Linked DNA regions of Homo sapiens: region 2 is linked to region 1. The links come from fine-mapping of genetic effects on gene expression. A gene starts in region 1. The other region holds a variant in brackets. All regions are shown on one strand. Distances are between the middles of the regions.

The links. PIP is the estimated chance that this variant, and not a neighbour inherited with it, causes the effect.
Region 2: its variant is fine-mapped to the expression of C9orf50 in thyroid (GTEx, PIP above 0.99).

What each region holds. Positions count from the first base shown.
Region 1 is chr9:129,617,217-129,625,216 of GRCh38, forward strand. C9orf50 (chromosome 9 open reading frame 50) reads right to left here and starts at 3,885. Exons shown (of 7, transcript NM_199350.4): 1 at 2,851-3,885; 2 at 2,524-2,614; 3 at 2,304-2,420. The coding sequence starts at 3,358. It also overlaps a transcript of NTMT1 not described here. RefSeq lists enhancers at 3,347-3,997, 6,868-7,007, 7,018-7,067.
Region 2 is chr9:129,638,853-129,649,604 of GRCh38, forward strand. It overlaps ASB6 (ankyrin repeat and SOCS box containing 6), which reads right to left and starts at 3,299. Exons shown (of 6, transcript NM_017873.4): 1 at 3,035-3,299; 2 at 1,689-1,870; 3 at 550-656; 4 at 350-458. The coding sequence starts at 3,147. RefSeq lists enhancers at 1,245-1,802, 1,803-2,359, 8,533-9,281 and a silencer at 3,066-3,665. The variant A/G (reference allele first, on the strand shown) is at 5,746.

The DNA of each region.
Region 1 (8,000 bases):
ATGTCTGTGTAGATGCAGAGGGAATGCTTTTCATCAGCCTCCAAAGAGCCAAGCAGTTGGGAGGTGTCAGGACAGTGCCTGGCTACATGCCTTGGGACCTAGTCATCTAACAGTTGTCTGCTCAGGAACCCCTGCTCTCTGCTGGCTGCTGGGCCAGGCAAAGGCATAACCCAGCTCTGCCCACCTGCCTGAAATCTCAGCATCTTCACTCGAGGGCCACTGGAGCCTGTTCTGAGGCACCACAGTGTCCCCTGCAGGGCCTACCAGGGAATCTCACACACAGTAAGGTGCTCAAGTATTTGCTCTTGAATGTGAAAGTCTGTAACTGTGTTTGTCTCTGCTTTTGCTCACATTTGAGAGAATGAATTCCATACTTTTATTTATTTGTATCTTGTGAGAAGTCATGTGTATATTTGGCCTGATTGGTTGAACGTTCTGAGGTTGGTAAATGTGTTTCACTGTTTTTGTTTGTTTGTTTGTTTTTTGAGACAGGGTCTTGCTCTGTCACCCAGGCTGGAGTGCAGTGGCACGATCTTGGCTCACTGCAGCCTCAACCTCCCAGGCTCAAGCAATCCTCCCACCTCAGCCTCCCGAGTAGCTGGAACCACAGGCATGCACCACCACGCCCAGCTAATTTTTGTAATTTTTGTAGAGACAGGGTTTCACCATGTTACCAAGGCTGGTCTCAAACTCCTGGGCTCAAGCGATCCTCCTGCCTCAGCCTCCCAAAGCACTGGGATTATAGGCATGAGCCACCATGCTTGGCCATGTGTTCCATTTCTAGTTCCTACCCTGATCCATCAGGAGTATCTACCTAGAGTACTGTGTGAGGAATGGTTCTGAGGCTCAGTGGGGAAATATGATCCATTAGTTTTGTCTGCTGTGGGTATGAGATGAGGAAGAATGATATGTTTGTGATGTATTTACTCTCCCTGGTCTTTAAACTCATGGGCAGTGCCATTCACCCTTCACCCCTGCTTAAGCCTGGAGGAATTTTAACCTGGAGGAACTGTTTCTGTCTTCTTTTCCTCCTCTGTTAAAACTATGGTGTCTAGGCCCAGGTAGGTTCCAATTCCTAGGCTCTTCTCTTACCTCCATCCCTTAGTTTTCTCCCAATATTCAACATATAGTAAAACCTAATAAAAGTTAGAGTAAGAAATGGACAAATGATGGTGGGATGGGTAAAATGATGGAAGACTGGGTGGGTGGGTTGATGGGTGGATGGACTGATGGGTGAGTTAATGAAAGGGTCTGAATAGAACTGAACTATGAATGTATGGGTAGATGGACAGATGCGTGGCTGGATGATTATGTAGATGGGTATGTAGGTTTGTGGATGGCTTTATGACTAGATTAGCGATGGACAGTGTCCTGGGTTTACAAGTGGATGGAAGGATTTGTAGATGGTTGGTCATTGGATCAATGGATGGATGGATAGAAGTGTGGGAGTTTTATTTTTTATTTATTTTATTTTATTTTATTTCATTTTTATTTGAGATGGAGTCTCACTCTGTCACCCAGGCTGGAGTGCAATGGCACAATCTCAGCTCACTGCAAGCTCCGCCTCCCGGGTTCACACCATTCTCTCGCCTCAGCCTCCCGAGTAGCTGGGACTACAGGCGCCCGCCACCACGCCCGGCTAATTTTTTGTGTTTTTTTTTTTTTTTTTGTATATTTTTAGTAGAGACGGGGTTTCACCGTGTTATCCAGGGTGGTCTCAATCTCCTAACCTCGTGATCCGCCCACCTCAGCCTCCCAAAGTGCTGGGATTACAGGTGTGAGCCACCGTGCCCTGCCGAAGTGTGGGAGTTTTAGATGGATGACTGGCTAGCTGGTTGGCCAGGTAGATGAATGGATCCACAGGACACCTGATTCATGGGTGGGTGGGTGAGTGAATGTATGGATGGATGGAGTCATGGGTCCATGATAGATTAATGGGTGGACAGAAGGATGGATGGATAGATGGAGAGATTCATGAACGGGTTGTAGAAGACTTGGTTCATGGATGAGATGGATGCAAAGATGGATGGGTGAATGGGAAAATGAATATATGAATAGATTCATGGATGAATTATGTGTTGGTAGAAGACCTCATTAATGGATGGGTTGATTCATTGATGAACTGGCGAATGAATCTTGAATGGGTTGGTAGAAGATCTGATTCACGGACAGCCATATGTAAGGATGGATGAATGGGTAGATAGGTGGATAAATGAATACATTCATGGGCGAAAGAGGAAAGAAAGAAGGAAAGAAATGCCCCTTTCCTCCACTACCCTACCCTTATCCCGCCCATCACTCACTGGTTGGCCTTTCTGACAGTGGTGAATTGTGAGTGATCACCCTTCAGGGGCCCCAGAATAGGTGTCTGCTGGAGCGAAATCTTCGTAAGACTATCCTGGAGGTGCGATGACTGGCCCCTTAAAGACAAACAGGCCACATCTGGCATGAGTGGCCAGGCTGTCCCGCCCTGGAAACATCGATGGCAACCCCGTCCCCACCAAGAAGCGGACTGACGCTTACCACAGGTCTGGGAGGAATGAACAGTTGGGACACCGCGGAGACCCTGGGCAGTGCTCTAATACACCCCTTTGATGTTGCGGTGCTGGGGATGCTGGAGCCAGGAGGAAACAGTTGTGAGCCTTGGCTGGGGGACGGTCCTTTCTAGTCATGTGGCCTCGGGGTGATGGCAGACCAGCCCTCAAGGACGGGTTGCGAGGGCTCTGAGATACTCAGCTAACATTAGCATCCTTCTAGCCTGGGTGGTGGGGTGGTGGGTGCGGGGACACAAGGGACCACCCCCCACCGGAAATGACTCGGGCCCGCCCCCCGGGCCCCGCGGGGCCTCACTCAGTGGCTCCGGCTCCTCGGCGCACTTCTCCTGGAGCTGGTGCAGGAACTCACGGAACCTGCTGGGGAGGAGCTCTCCTAGGAAGGCGCCCAAGAAGTCGGGGTCCTCCCTGGCCACGCGCCTCCGGGGGCGCTCGCGCTCTCCAGGCCCTGGCTGCCTGGGCGCCGATTCCCGGGACGCGCCGGCCGACAGCAGGGGAGGCGGCAGCAGGGACCGCAGCAGCCCCCGCTTCCGCACGGCCCGCCGGGTCGCGGTGAGCAAGGCGGGCAGGCGCGGCGGGAGGCGTCCGACGCCCACCCCGGGCTTGGCGTCCCCTTCCGGCCACCACGCGGCGCCGCCCCCCGGGATCCTCCAGTCCCCGGAGCCCCGCGCGCCCAGAGCCGCTCGGAGCGCGGGCGGGGTCAGCTTGGGCAGCCGCGGGTCGCTGCTGCGTCGGAAGTCTCCGTCGCCAGGGAGCCCCTTGGGCGCCAGGTCCTGGGCCCCTGGGCGAAGTCGACGCCAGAACATGCTTGGCCCCGCACTCAGCTCACCGCACCCTCAGCGCGCGTGGGTGGGGGGCGCCGGCTGAGGTGGGGAGGGCATAGTCCAGCCCCAGGCCATAGTGCCCCGGGCGGGGCAGCGCGGTGCGGGGTGAACGCCACCGGCCCGGCGGACAGCGAGTGGCTTCAGGCGAGAGCTCCCAGAGCCTCTGTTTCCTCACCTGAAAAATGGTGACAGCAAGAGTAGCCAACTTTGGGGGTTGCTGTGACGTTTAAATGAGCAAGTACATGCCAGTCTTAGAACAGCAAGCTCGGTACAGTGCCAGGCACGCTGGCCAAGCTTACACATAGACTAGCTGCCATTCTTAGTATTTCAAAGTTATTATTATTTAGGATTTAGTCCCAGCTCCACCACTTATTAGCTTTGTAACCTTGGCCAAGCCAATTAACTTCCCTCTGCCTTCCCTGGGGGCTCTGGTCTGCAGAATGGGGATAATAGCAGCACCTGCCTCTCTGCAGCCGTGAAACGGCATCACCGCATCACCGCTGGTAGAGAGAGCACTTAGCCTGCCTTGCAGTGTTCAAAGCGTGGAACTGTTACCGTCATTAGCGCTCTACTGGGAATTAGGAAACCTGGAACCAGCTTGAGGGAAGAGAGACCTGACCAGCAGCCTCCCAGCCCTGGTGCTGCCTCAGAGACCCCTGGGTGGGGAGCCTGTTGAAAATACAGATGACTTACCCCCAGCCCCCATTCTGATTCAGTACGTCTCTGCTGGAGCCAAGACAGTTTGTTGTTCTTGTTGTTGTTGTTAAAGAGATGGGGTCTTGCTAAGACGGGGTCCTGCTGTCACCCAGGCTGGAGTGCAATGGCACCATCATAGCTCACTGCAGCCTCAAATTCTTGGGCTCAAGTGATCCTCCTGCCTCAGCCTCCTGAGTAGCTGGGACTACAGGCACACACCACCACAGTTGGCTAATTTTTGTATATTTTGTAGAAATGGGGTAGAATTTTTTTGTATTTATGTTGCACGGGCTGGTCTTGAACTCCTGGGCTCAAGTGATCCACTTGCCTTGGCCTCCCAAAGTGCTGGGATCACAGGCGTGAGTCCCCACTTCTGGCCAAGACACAGACTTTTAACAAACTCCCCCTTTGGGAGGCAGAGCCCCAGTCTTACTCCCAGCTCTGACACTGAGGGGTTTCTAAGCCTGCTTCCTCCCAACCACACCCCACTCCCAGATTGTTGTCAGCTCTGAGCTGACTCCTGGGCAGTGTCACACTCACCCTGGTGGGCTTCTGGGTGGGGCCCTAGAAGGTCCTGTGAGTTTAGAGCTCTCTACAGGCAGGCTGTAGAGCCCATCATCCCTGCCTGGTGCCTCTCCCAGCCCCTCCCGGCTGCCTCTGGGCCGCTTCAGGGTCATTGTGATCCGCCCCTCACCCCTGGGCATCTGAGTAGCAGTGGGCACTGAGGCCTGGGGACTAAGGGTGGGGCTATTGTGCCCTGGATGCCCTGGCCGCAGCCACCTGGGGCACTGGGACTCTGACCAGGGCAGCCAGGCCTACCCTTTCCAGATCTGGGAGGCTTAGGCTGGGTGGCTCTGGAAGTAGAACTTCCACCCCAAGACCAGGCAGTCAGAATACAATGGACCTAGAAATGAACAGACCCTGCGGGGCACGGTGTCTCACGCCTGTAATCCCAGCACTTTGGGAGGCCGAGGCGGGCGGATCACCTGAGGTCAGAAGTTCAATACCAGCCTGGCCAACATGGTGAAACCTCGTCTCTACAAAAAATACCAAAATTTGCCATGCATGGTGTTGTGCACCTATAATCCCAGCTACTTGGGAGGCTGAGACAGGAGAATCGCTTGACCCTGGGAGGCGGAGGTTGCAGTGAGCTGAGATCATGCCACTGCACTCCAGCCTGGGTGACAAAGCGAGACTCCATCTCAAAAATAATAATAATAATAATCCAAGGTCTGGGTGCTAGGTGTGCTTCTTGCTATTGAGATGTCATTTCTTTCAGGCAGTCTCAGCTGACAAAGAAATGTGTGTGTATACTATGAAACACACACATATCTATAAATATTTCTATAGGTAACCATCTGTACTTATATTAAGCTAAACATGAGCTCATGCTGACATCTCCAACTCTAATCCGTTACACAGATCATTTGAGACTCTGTCTCACAAAAAAAAAAGAGGCCAGGTTCCAGTGGCTCATACCTGTAATCCTAACACTTTGGGAGACCGAGGCAGGTGGATTGCCTGAGCTCAGGAGTTCGCAATCAGCCTGGGCCACATGGTGAAACCCCGTCTCTACTAAAATACAAAAAAATTAGCCGGGCGTGACAGCGTGTGCCTGTAGTCCCAGCTACTTGGGGGGCTGAGGTAGGAGAATTGCTTGAACCCGGGAGGCGGAGGTTGCAGTGAGCCGAGATCACGCCACTGCACTCCAGCCTGGGCAACAGAGTGAGACTCCATCTCCATAAAAAAAAAAAGAAAGAAAGAGCCGGGCACGGTGGCTCACGCCTGTAATCCCAGCACTTTGAGAGGACAAGGCGGGTGGATCATGAGGTCAGGAGATCGAGACCATCCTGGCTAACACGGTGAAACCCTGTCTCTACTAAAAATACAAAAAATTAGCTGGTTGTGGTGACGGGTACCTGTAATCCCAGCTACGCGGGAGGCTGAGGCAGGAGAATGGCGTGAACCCAGGAGGCGGAGCTTGCAGTGAGCGGAGATCGCGCCACTGCACTCCAGCCTGGGCGACAGAGCAAGATTCCATCTCAAAAAAAAAAAAAGAAGGAAGGAAGGAAGGAAGGAAGAAAAGAAATTAACAGACCCACTTTCAAGTCCATGGTCTGCTGTTTTGCTGTGTGATCCTGGAGAAGTGTCTTCTTTCTCAGGACTCCCTGGGCCTTATCTCTGAGTCTTGGCTGGGAGAGGGCCGAGAGGAAGCTCATAGTATTGTGAAGCTGGGGTGGGAGACAGAGGTCATTTACATGAGTATTTCACTGGCGTGGCATAGTTTCATAATTTGAAAATGAAGAAACGACTTTGTAATTCAAATAACAGAGTGACTCACTAGAGAACGCGTCGCCAAAGATATATTCTATTTTCTGTCAATGCTTCTCACCAGGGATGGAGGGACATACTTTCCTGGAGAGCTACAATATTGAGTGGGGGAGGGAGATATTTTTGTATTTATTTAAAGGGTATGTGTCTTTTTTAATGGCTGCGAAACACCAGATTAACTAGACGGTTTCTTTTTTTCTTTTCTTTTCTTTTTTTTTTTTTTGGAGACGGAGTCGCGATCTCAGCTCACTGCAAGCTCCGCATCCTGGGTTCACCCCATTCTCCTGCCTCAGCCTCCCGAGTAGCTGGGATTACAGGTGCCCACCACCACGCCCGGCTAATTTTTTTGTATTTTTAGTAGAGACGGGGTTTCACCGTGTTAGCCAGGATGGTCTCGATCTCCTGCCCTTGTGATCCACCTGCCTCGGCCTCCCAAAGTGCTGAGATTACAGGCGTGAGCCACTGCGCCTGGCCTAACTAGATGGTTTCTAAGGAGCCCTCCAGCCCTTGCACTCTGCAAATATTTATCAAGGAACTACTATGTGCTAGGCTTGGGAATTCAGAGATGCCAGAGGCTTTGAGGTCAGGGAGCCGGCCAGTCCTGGGAAGGCCTTGGAGCGTGGCTGTGGGGAAGGGGCTTGCTCTTCTGTTGACAGGAAATAAGACAGGGCTGGATTTTTAGGCATACAGAGAGCTTGGATCAGAGCTGCCCCCTGGCGGAGGATTCCGGACACCCCCACCGATTGAAATTGCCCAGGATCAATCCCTTTGCTTAAAGACACAGAAAATGAAGCTTGGGAGAGGGGCTCAGACCAGGGGTAGCAGTTGTGACCTAGAATAGTCTAGAGGGTATGCCAAATAAGATGCACATACACACATCCTGCGGACTCAATGCAGAAGGGGCTTTTTAGCATCCCCTTTCTACCGTAGCTTTCAACACATTTAGAGCAAACACACTTTAAGCACCTTCTGTGTGCGTCGCCCAGAGGAAGGAACACCAGGATAGTATTATTATTATTTTATTTTTGAGACAGAGTTTCGTTCTTGTCACCCAGGCTGGAAAGCAATGGCGCGATCTAGGCTCATTGCAACTTCTGCCTCCTAGGTTCAGGCTATTCTCCTGCCTCAGCCTCAGAGTAGCTGGGACTACAGGCATGCACCACCATCCCTGGCTAATTTTGTATTTTTAGTAGAGACGGGGTTTTGCCATGTTGGCCAGGCTGGTCTCAAATTCCTGACCTCAGGTGATCCGCCTGCCTTGGCCTCCCAAAATGCTGGGATTAGAGTCGTGCACCACCGTGCCCTGCCAACACAAGGATATTATTAATAGTATAGGAAAAATGAACTTAAGATGGATATTGTCATTATAACAGCTTCCATTTCCTGAGAACCCACTGCAGGTGCTGAGCTGAAGGTCTGACGTGCAATGTCCCACAAGTTTAACCCTCTCAGAGCATCAGAAGTTGAGTAATTATTACGTTGCTCAACTTCCTCTTCTGACAGGAGACTGAAGCTCGGAAATGTTAACAGGCTCTACCCACCTGCAAGCTCCCGTTTCCATCACCGCTGCCTCGGAGATAGCTCCAGAATTTCTTTG
Region 2 (10,752 bases), 23 kb after region 1:
AAAGGCCAGGAAAGGTAGGATTTTTCTGGACCCCAAGATGCTACCTGAGATGTTGGCTGGGCCTCTCCCAATGGGAAGCCATTGTTTCTTGGAAACTAAGTGCACACATGCCCTATTTCTTCCTATAGAAGGCCCTTGAGGGCCAGCACAGGGACAATGACTGCACTGCCTCTCTGAAGCCTCTGAGCTCAGCAAGTCAGCAGAATCCCTGTGTGCCCAGCCATGCTGTGCCACCAGCCAGGGCCAGCATCCAGTCTGCCCACCTAGCTGTTGTCCTGGGGCACCCTGGGTGTCCCCCACAAGGTGCCTGGGGGCCCAGCTGTCCTGCTTTCCTGCAGGAGGCACCCACCATGCTTGTCAGCGGCATTGACATCAGCTCCAAGGTCCAGGAGGCGCTGCAGGCAGGGCAGGCGCTCAGGCTCCTCGCTGGCCAGGTCCAAGGGGCTACTCTCGTGGATCTGAGCCAAGGAAGCACAGCCAGGTTGGCTTGGGAAGCTGCTCAGGCCCCTGCCCAACCCTGCTTCAAAGCAAGCTGGACCTGGCACTTACCCGGTCCCTCCGATTAACGTCGGCCCCGTGATGCACCAGCAGCTCCACCATGTCCGGCTGGTTCCGCAGGACGGCGATGTGCAAGGCCGTGTAGTAGGTGACTGGGTCTGAAGGTGCAGACACAGCTCATGTGGGTCCTATCTGTCCGCATTCTTATGGGGCCCCCGGACCCAGAGCCCAGCCCCAAACTCCCACCTAAAGTGTCCAGAAGCACAGGCCCAGCCTCCTGTCACCATCAAGGGTTAGGACAGAGCTGTCCTCACCAGATACTAGAGGGCCCTCGGGGTGTTCTAGTGGGCACGCTACTGAAGCTGTTGGGGGCTTTAGTTTCCTCTTCTGTAAGAAGGGACCATAAAACGGGGCGCACCCTCTCAGAATGGCTGGGAGGCCGCGCTACACAGCAGCTCTGGCGGCTCTGCTTTGTAGGCCTGGTGGTAACAGCCAGGTTCTCCAAGCTGGTCTCCAAGTCACTGGCTTCAGAACCGGCCCTCCCGTCTCAGCTCCTTGACCCTCCAGGAGCCCAGCAGACTCCAAGCCCGTCTTCGGATGGGGAAAGGAGACGTGCCTGGCTGTCTCAGGCCCCTATTAGGTCACAAGGCAGCCCTGCCTGTCTGCCGACTAACCCTGCCCTCCCTGGGCTGAAAAACACAGAGAAAGGAGCTCGGCTCCATCTCCATCCCTGGCACTCAGGAGCCAGGAGCCAGGGTGTCCTGTGGTGATTTATGCCTAATGCAGCCTGTTTTCCCCTCTCCCTACGGCATGAGAAAAAAAAAAACAAATTGGCTCAGAGTAAGTAGCAGAAAATTACCTTCCCTTAGCTCTGGGCACAGTGCCAGCAGCCGCATTTTTGCATTAATGGAAGTGGGGATTAATCTGGGAGCTGGGGAAAGTTTGCTAATCAATCACATGGTAGAAGCAGCAACACTCGCTCTTGGAACAGAGGTGGGAAGAGCCATGTGAAAACCCGCAGGGGGTGGGAGGCCACCCAATGGGAGTTTCCTTAGTTGCAGCCACCCAGGAAATAAAGGGGGGGAAGTCACTCCTCAGAGGATGGTAGAAGCCAAGGCTGGGGACATGGGCGCCCACCCAGCGTCGGGCCGCGTTTAAGCCACCTGCCCACCCCCGGGGCTCTCGCTGACCTTCAAAGTTGAGATTGGCCCCATGCCGCAAGAGAACGTCGGCCGCCCGCGTCAGCCCCAGCTCAGCCATCTTGAGCAGGGCGTTGCTCACGCCTTCCTGGTAAAAGGGAGAGTGGGCTTTCCTCTCCAGCAGCTCAGTGAGAACAAGGATTCGGCTCTCCTCGCTGGCGACATAACTGGGCCTGGGACAGGAGAGAGGCTGAGGGTAGGCACAGCTGTGGGACCGGGTGACCGCGCAGCCTGTGGGTTGGTGGGCTTTAGTCCTGCTATCATCATCAGCAAGCAGGGCCCTGGCTCTGTGGGTCACAGGGGCTTGGGGGAAGCTCTGAAGTAGAGAGAGGGCCACGCTGCATCTCTTAATACGGGAGCAGACTGGGATTTGCGGAGAATGGGCTGGGTCTGTCTGCGCTCTCCTCCCGCGTTGCCCAGAGTCCGGTCGCAGACTTAGGTACAAAGCCTCACACACCTGGGCTGCTGGGACTGAAGGGACCACCAGCCTGGAGGCCAAGAGCCCAAGCCCGACTTTGATGCTTCTTCCTCAGAAAGCCCTTCCATCCTCAAACCCGCAGGACCCCAGCCCCGGCAACACCTGCAGCCAGGACAGCAACACAGCCTCCTCCCTCCCCTCACATTGAGACCTTCAGCTGATATTGATGAAGAAAGCCTACGTTTCCACCAGAGTCCCTGGATGGCGAGACTCATCATTACCACGTGTTGGAAATACCAACTGACAACCCCCTCAACACCTGAGCCGAGCCCCTTCCTTCTGCTCTCCCCTCCCTTCCACCTCGCGTGCCGCCGTACAATTACTTGTCAGTCTCTCCTCTGGAGCACATGCGCCAAGAAGGCGGGGGTTTTGCTGAGCCACTGATGGACCCCAGGTGCCTAGTACCATGGGCAGTGAATGCAGATTCGCTCCCGACCCCTTTCCTGCAGGTCCACGACAGACCAGCTCTTGTCTATAAAAACGCAAACTCTGCTACAAAAGCCCACCTTCACACTGCTCTGGGGTAACATCTGAGGCCTCACGGATTCCACCCTGCTCCTCTGCCACGCCGGGGGGTGGCACAGGACAGGCAGGCGACAGGGTGGGGCTGAGGCGCAGGCCCTGCGACAACCCGCGGGCCTCCGCCCTCGGGCCCTCCCCGCCCTTCGTCTCCGCCATGCAAGGGGCAGGAGTGGGATCCGCGCGGGGCAGCGCGCACTCCGAGCCACGCAACCCCGGCTTCCGCCCGTCCCTTCCTCTGTCAAGGGGGACGCATCCACCCCGCCCGGCTTGTGGTGATAAAGTGGGACGCTGCGGGGTCGGAGCGGCCTCGGCCAGCTCACGGGAGGGGGTGAGTTACCGGTCCAGAGACTCCTGCCGCTCGGGGTCCTGGATCCCCAGGGAGCCCAGAATCGCATCCACCAGCGGCTGGTACTCGAAGATGATCCTCCGGAAGCCGTGCAGGAACGGCATCGCCGCGGGCCCCGCGCAGCAGGGCCGTCGCGCTTTCTGCCGAGGCCGAGATGCCCAGACGCCGACCGGAACGCTCCGGCGGCCGCGGACCCCACCTGCTCCGCCAGTCCAGCCCCTGCGCCCGGCCGGGTCCGCTCCTCAGTCCAAGCCGCGCCCCCGCCGGAAGTGACCCTCGTACTTCCTGCCCGCGCCGACTCAGGGTGGGCCATATGGCGACAGCGCCCCCTGCGGGCTCGGAGGACCTCGGCGCGTCCTGGGGCACGACCGCCAGGCCGACTCGGGCGATGTCCAGTGGGCGGCCCCAGCGGAGTGGGAGAGTGGAGGATCGAGCCAAGCCAGATCCGAGACTCAGGCGGGTCCGCCCCTTCCTGCCAGGGCCCGGCCCGGCTCGGCTTCGCCCTGCGATCCCGCCCGCGACCGCTGGGCGCCGTCCGAGTTCCGCCGGTCGTGCTCTCGGCCCTGCCGCTGCCCCACTGGCCCTGGGCGCCCCTGAGAGCTGTGGTCATCAGACACTGCCCCTTCCGGTTCGGGCTGGCCCTCGCCTTCCCTGAAGAGGGGCTGGGCCACCTCTGTCACCACCCGGCCCGCTGACTGGAATGATGAGGACCAGGGTACTCGCACGTCCCCTCCTCAGTTTCTTATTCTCTGTCCCGGGGAGCACCTGGCCAGGACGGCTGCTAGCCCTCTCCACCTCTGCCTTGATGGACTCAGTGAATCTTGTTTTTTGTTGTTGTTGTTTTTGTTTTTTTGGGGGACGTAGTCTCGCTCTGTTGCCCAGGCTGGAGTGCAATGGCACGATCTCGGCTCACTGCAACCTCCGCCTCCCGGGTTCAAGCGATTCTCCTGCCTCAGCCTCCCGAGTAGCTGGGATTACAGGCGCTGGCCACCACGCCCAGCTTATTCTTGTATTTTTAGTAGAGACAGGGTTTCACCATATTGGCCAGGCTGGTCTCGAACTCCTGACCTCGTGATCCTCCCACCTCGGCCTCCCAAAGTGCTGGGATTACAGGCATGAGCCACGGTGCCCAGCCCGAATCTTGTGTATTTTTTAGAGACAGGGTCTCACTCTGTCTCCCAGGCTGGAGTGTAGTGTAGTGATCATGACTCACTGCAGCTTTGAACCCCTGGGCTCAGGTGATCCTCCCGCCTCAGCCTCCCGAGAAGCTGGGAACACAGGAGTGTGCTACCGCCTGTCTCTGAACTTGGATTTCCTCATCTGTAAAATGGGTAGAATCCCCAGCACTTTGAGAGGCCGAGGCAGGTGGATCACCTGAGGTCAGAAGTTCGAAGCTGCAGACCGGCCTGGCCAATATGATGAAACCCTGTCTCTACTAAAAATACAAAAATTACCCGGGCGTGGTGGCAGGCGCCTGTAATCCCAGCTACTTGGGAGGCTGAGGCAGGAGAATTGCTTGAACCCGGGAGGCGGAGGTTGCAGTGAGTGGAGATCGCACCATCACACTCCAGCCTGGGCAATAAGAACGAAACTCTGTCTCAAAAAGAAAAAAAAAAAGTATAATCACACTCACCTGAGATGCTGGAGCCAGCGCACTGTAATTGTTGGTGGAAGTGGAATTCAGTGGGAAGGAGCCAAAACCCTCTGGTTCAGGAAGAAGGGGCGGAGTGGGCAGCCGGGTTTAAGCCCCTTTAGGGCAACACCAGCTTGGGCTTCCTAGAAGCAGCTCCAGGCCGCAGAGTCCACAGCTGCCAGCACGTTTCTGCCTTGGTTCTCGCTGTAGGAAAGAAATTTCTCCCTGGGTGAAATCGGGAAATTCTGCTCACATGGAAATGGACATTTCCAGCTTGCCTTGGAAAAACCACTTTTCTGGAGTCGAGGCACCTCCCCTTGGGCCATGCATTTGAGCCTCCTCTCCCACCTGGAGTCTGCGTGGGGGGGCCTTGATGCCTTCTTGCTTCTGGGAAGCTGATGATGAAGAGGGGTTTCCCGCCCCAGCAGTCCACATCACAGCGTTGGCCTCCTGGGCCTTGCTCTGCCAAGTTGGGCCCCTCTCCCTGGAACCTGCCAGACAGCGAGAGTTGCCCAGCCCAGGAAAAAAACATTTAAAGGCGCATTTCAAGACAATCCGATGGGTCTTAGAGTAAACATTTTTATATTTATTTATTTATTATTATTATTATTATTATTTTTCAGACGGAGTCTCACTCTGTTGCCTAAGCTGGAGTGCAGTGGCAGGATCTCGGCTCACTGCAACCTCCAACCCCTGGGTTCAAGCCTACCAGGTAGCTGGAATTACAGGCATGCGCTACCACGCCAGGCTAATTTTTGTATTTTTAGTAGAGACGGGGTTTCACCATGTTGGCCAGGCTATTCTCGAACTCCTGACCTCAGGTGATCCACCCGCCTCAGCCTCCCAAAGTACTGGGCTTACAGACGTGAGCCCACCACGCCCAGCCAGATGAAACATTTTTAAATGGGCAGAGTAAGGCCCTCTACCATGTGCAAAACAAACTGTACAAGAAAACCCAAAGCAACGAGCCTCAACCGGCAAGGTTGAGGGTGTGGCAGCAGCGGCTGGTAACTGCTGGCTCTGGTTGTTAAAGCTGTTGTCAGATCCAATGACAGGCTCTCGGAAAACC[A/G]CCTCCGACGCCAGGCATTCAGAGTGCCTCAGTTTGCTTCCTCTTCCATTACCTAAAGGAGTAGGAAGGAGGGGTGGGGGTGGGCAGCTGGGTTCAAGACCCTTTAAGGCAACACTAGCTTGGGCGTCCCAGAAGCAACTGCAGACTACGAGGGCCCACGGCTCCCCACACATGTCTGCCTTGATTCTTGCTGAGGGAAAGAAGTATCTTCCTGAGGGAAATCGGGACATTTTGCTCCCAGGGAAATGGAGATTTTCCAACTTGCCTTGTAAAAATCAGAAGGGCCCAGATTCTTACCAGACAGCGATTTGCATCCAGATGGGGTGCTTGCCCTGGGTGCACCTGCCTGGGCATGACTCTGAGCGTTTGGAAGTGTCTGCCCCTGCTTGAAGGGTCCCCCTCAATGGATCGCGAGGCCCTGAACGGTACAGCCGCTCTCAGGCGACCCAGGTCTTCACAGCCCCTCTCTCGTTTGATCACACAACACATTTGATCACGTGACACCATGCCCGTGTTGAGTCAGGCCTCGGTCTCCTCACCTATGTGATGGCCTTTGGCCCTCAACCCTCAGGAGACGGAGGCCTGACTTACCCAAGGGCGCATGGTGAGTAACTGCGGGAGGTGCAGTCCCGTGGGGTCCCGGTGGAGCTGGGTGGGCTGACTTCGTCTGAGCCCTGCTTTTGCCCTAGGGCTGCTATAACAAGGTGCTGCAGACCTGATGGCTTAAAACAACAGAAATTCACTCCTTTACAGTTCTGGAGGCGGAAAGGTCAAATTCAAGGTGTGGGCAGGGCCACGCTCCCTCCAAAGACTCCAGAGAAGGTCCCTTTCTTGCCTCTCCCACTCCTGGTGACCACAGGGGTACCTCGGCTTGGGACAGCAGCACCCCAGTGTCCACCTTCCTCTGTCTCCACACAGCCTTCTTCCTGCTGTCTATGCCACTGTCCAAATCCCCCGCTCCCTTCTTTTTCTTTTTCTTTTTTGTTTTGTGTTTTGAGACAGAGTCTCGCACTGTCGCCAGGCTGGAGTGCAGTGGTGCGCGTGTGCCACCACCCTCAGCTAATTTTTTTTTGTATTTTTAGTAGAGACAGGGTTTCACCATGTTGGCCAGGATGGTCTCGATCTCTTGACCTTGTCATCCGCCCGCCTCTGTCTCCCAAAGTGCTGGGATTATAGGCGTGAGCCACCGTGCCCAGCCTTCCCCCTCCTTTCTAAATGGGCATGGGTCACTGGATTTATAGGGCGCACCCAAATCCATTATGGCCACATCTTAATTTGATTACATCTGCAAAACCCCTTTTTCTGAACGAGGTCACGTTCCAGGCACCAGGACTAGGACTGGAACATATCTTTTTGGGGAGCACACATAAACCCACTGTCACGAGTGACCCTAGGCATGGCCCTTCTGGTCTCTGGGCCTCAGTTTCCTCACCTATAACCTGAGGGCCCTCCCAGCTCTGACAGTCTTGGAGCCAATGACGAACTCCTTGACGTGGCTGGTGGGCTCCGCCGACAGAGAAGGAGTGAGGAGGGGGCCATTATAATAACAACAACACGAGCCCACTTGTATTTACGGAGACCCTTGTACATGCCAGGCACTAGATATGCTGAATGTTTGGTGCACTGATCTCCCTAAATCCTGTTAAGTAGGTGATATTATTACCCCATTTTACAAAGAAACGGGCTCAGAGAGGTTTGGGCGCTTGTCCCAGGCTGCACTGTGAGGTTGGGCCTCCAGCCCCGGTCGGTGCAACTTTTCCACGCTTCCTGCCTCCGAGACTCGAGTGTCCTCAGCTCCTCCAGCTCTGGGCTCACGAGTCTGGACATGCAGGAGGGGGAGCTAACCCCCGCCCTCTCACAGCCCTGGGGCACCACCCTGTGGGGCTGGCCCTGCTGCCTGCCCGCCGCCCAGGCTCCTAACTTTAGAGGGCTTTGTGCCCCCTGACCTCCCTCCTGTCAGCAAGGGCAGACTTGTTTCCTCCATCTGCCTCCCATTAGGGCTCTGTCACTCAGAGCCCCTGGTTCCAGCTCTCCGCTTCTCTCTCTTTTCCTTGTCACTGCCACTCACCGCCTGGCCAGCCCAGCCCCTTCCTGCCACCCACCTCCAGAGATCTTCAGCAGGATGGGGGTCCTGGGGACAAGGACCCAGAGCTCAGCCCTGTCCCTGCCTCCTAGTCCTCGGGGAGTTTGGGAGTCACTCCGACTCGTCAATGTACAGAGGGGGATGACCTTAATATATAAAGAGCTGCTAAAAATCAACAACAAGAAGGCAAAAACACCAATAAAAACATGGGCAAAGGACATGCACAGGCAAGTCACGAAGGATGAAAAATGGTCAAAAAACAGGGATAGACACTCAGCCTCTCCTGCGGTCCAACAATGATGGTAGCTGGTAACACGTGGGGTCCTTCTCTATAACAATCCAACAGAGCCCATTACAGAATAGCAGGTACCATATGGTCCCATTTAGGAAAATGTGTGTGTGCACGTGTGTGTGTGTGTGTGTGTGCAGGAATCATTCTTGAACGCCCCATGCTGAGATGTTAATGGTGGTTGTTTTGGGTGTTGGGATCTGGGAATTTTTACTCTTCTTTGTATGTGGATATATTTCCTCTTTTTTCTCCAATGAGTGTGTCTTACCTGAGACTTATTAATAAAACATTATGTAAGCCCAGGGCAGAGAATCAGGCCCTGACACCCCTCCTGGGGTTGAAGGCAGGCCCTGAACACCAGCAGGGGGTCCAGGCCTGTCCATAAAGCCTTCTCCCTCTCCCAGCCCATGGACTGACAGCCTCCTCCTCAGCACGCAGGCCACTCACCCTTGAGGTCCCCTCAACCTGGACTAGCGCTTCGCTCACTTTCCTCCCGAGTGGCCGTGAGTCCACCCGCCCACCCGCCCAGGCTGGCTGTAGGAATGGCCAATCGGCAGCAACTGTGGTCTCTGCTCGAGTGTGTCCTACTCCCATGCATTCAGTAAGAAGCTCAACAAGTCTCATCAGTTCATCGCGACACCCCAGGAAGTGACCCCAGGACTCTGGTGTCAGAGTCTAGGAGAGATGGCTGACCAAGCCAAGGTCAGTGAGTGAGGGGCCCAGGGAGGGGGCTTCACACCCAGGGCCTGGCTTCCAACCCCTACTGGAGCCCCACAAAGCGCGTACTCACACTTGCACACACACCACTCAAATACACTCCCACACGCTCACATGCACCCCACACACCACTCACACACACACCACTCAAATACACGCACACACGCTCACACGCACCACACACACCACCCACACACCACACACACACACCACTGAAATACACTCACACACGCTCACACGCACCACACACACACACCACTCACACACACCACTCACACACGCCACTCACACACGCCACTCACACACATACACACCACTCACACACACACCACTCACACACACACACCACTCACACACATACACACCACTCACACACACACCACTCACACACACACCACTCACACACACACCACTCACACACAACCACTCACGCACACACATCACTCATGCACACTAGCACACACACCACTCACTCATACGCACCACTCACACTCACATACCACTTACACACCACTCACCCATACACACACCAACATACACCACTCATACACCACTGTAACACACACTACTCACACATACGCCACTCACACCACACACATACACCACTCTCACACACACGTGCCAGGCTGGGCAGCTCCAGGGAGGAGTGGTCTGGCCCCATCCCAGCACCTTCGCCCTCCACGGTGCCTGCTGTCTCCCCAGGAGGGGCTGTCGGCTGCCAGGCCTGTCCCTTAGAAGGCCCTGGAGGGGGAGAATTAGGGAACCCCTGCCTTTTATTTCTTCTCTTTTTTTGATTGGCGGCATTTCCATAAAGTGAGATATTTAGAAACATACACATCACCACAAGGACCATTTCAGAGCCTCCAACTTCAGCCCCCGGGCAAGTCCCCAGGGCACCGGGACAGACGAGGGCCCGGCATATTTCTGAAGTGTGGTCATGGAAGTGCCGCCCTCCGCTTCCCCCCCTTCTGCCCTTCTTCTCCTGCCTGGCTCCCCGCTCCTTTCCTTTCCTCCTCCCCCCACACCCTGACCCCACCCTGACCCCCGACCCTCATGACCCAAGAGTGTCCCTGCAGGAGGCCCAGCCTGCCTGTTCCTGCCACAGTCCTCAGGCTGGAGGGGCAGGGCCTGGATTCCTGGGTTCCCAGAGGCCTAAGAGTCTGTCTGCTCAGGGGAGAAACTGAGGTAGCAGGGGCTGGAGCAGGGGCCGTGCGGTGGGGCCGTGTGGCAGGACAGTGGCCGGGCCAGCGAAGGGCTTTTTCTGTCCCCTCCCTTATTCTGTTTACTGTCCTAAGAAGCACCAAGGAGCATTTCGGGGGCCCCAACCCCCAGGGCGACAAGCCCCAGAGACCTCTGTGCTTCTGATGGCCGGGCTTGCTTTCCCCTCCCTACCCGCCCCCACCAGGAAGCCCTCCCTGCCGGCCAGAGCCCCCTACTCCGGCACAGACACTGCCAGGTGGTTCCTGGTGCTTGGTCCAAGGGCGGGGCCTGTGACAGCCAGGTAAGGGTGGGGCCAGGCCCCAGTGAAGCCCCCAGGTGGGCAGCCCAGAGCCTGGGACGGGATGCCGCAGGACCCCTCTTTCTCTACTGTTCCCCCATGCCCACATGGAAGGCCCTGCCTGGTCCCCGCCTCTCCCAGGTGAGGTAAGTCAGCAGCCCAGAGCAGGGTGGGAAGGTGCTGAGCGCCCCGGGGGTCTCGCCCTGCGTCTGGAGGGAGGCTGGGGCCTGGACTTTGGCCTGGGCCTCTCTCAGCCTCACTGCCCATCTGCACACGAAGGGGTGGGCCCAGGGTTCCCCTAAATTTCTTTCTACCCCAGAAGTCAAGGGTCCTACTGAGAGCCTAGCAGGCAAGGATTCTGCCCATGGCGATTCTTCCCATGGAGGAAGCCTTCCAAGAAAGGCTTCTTCACCTCGGCCT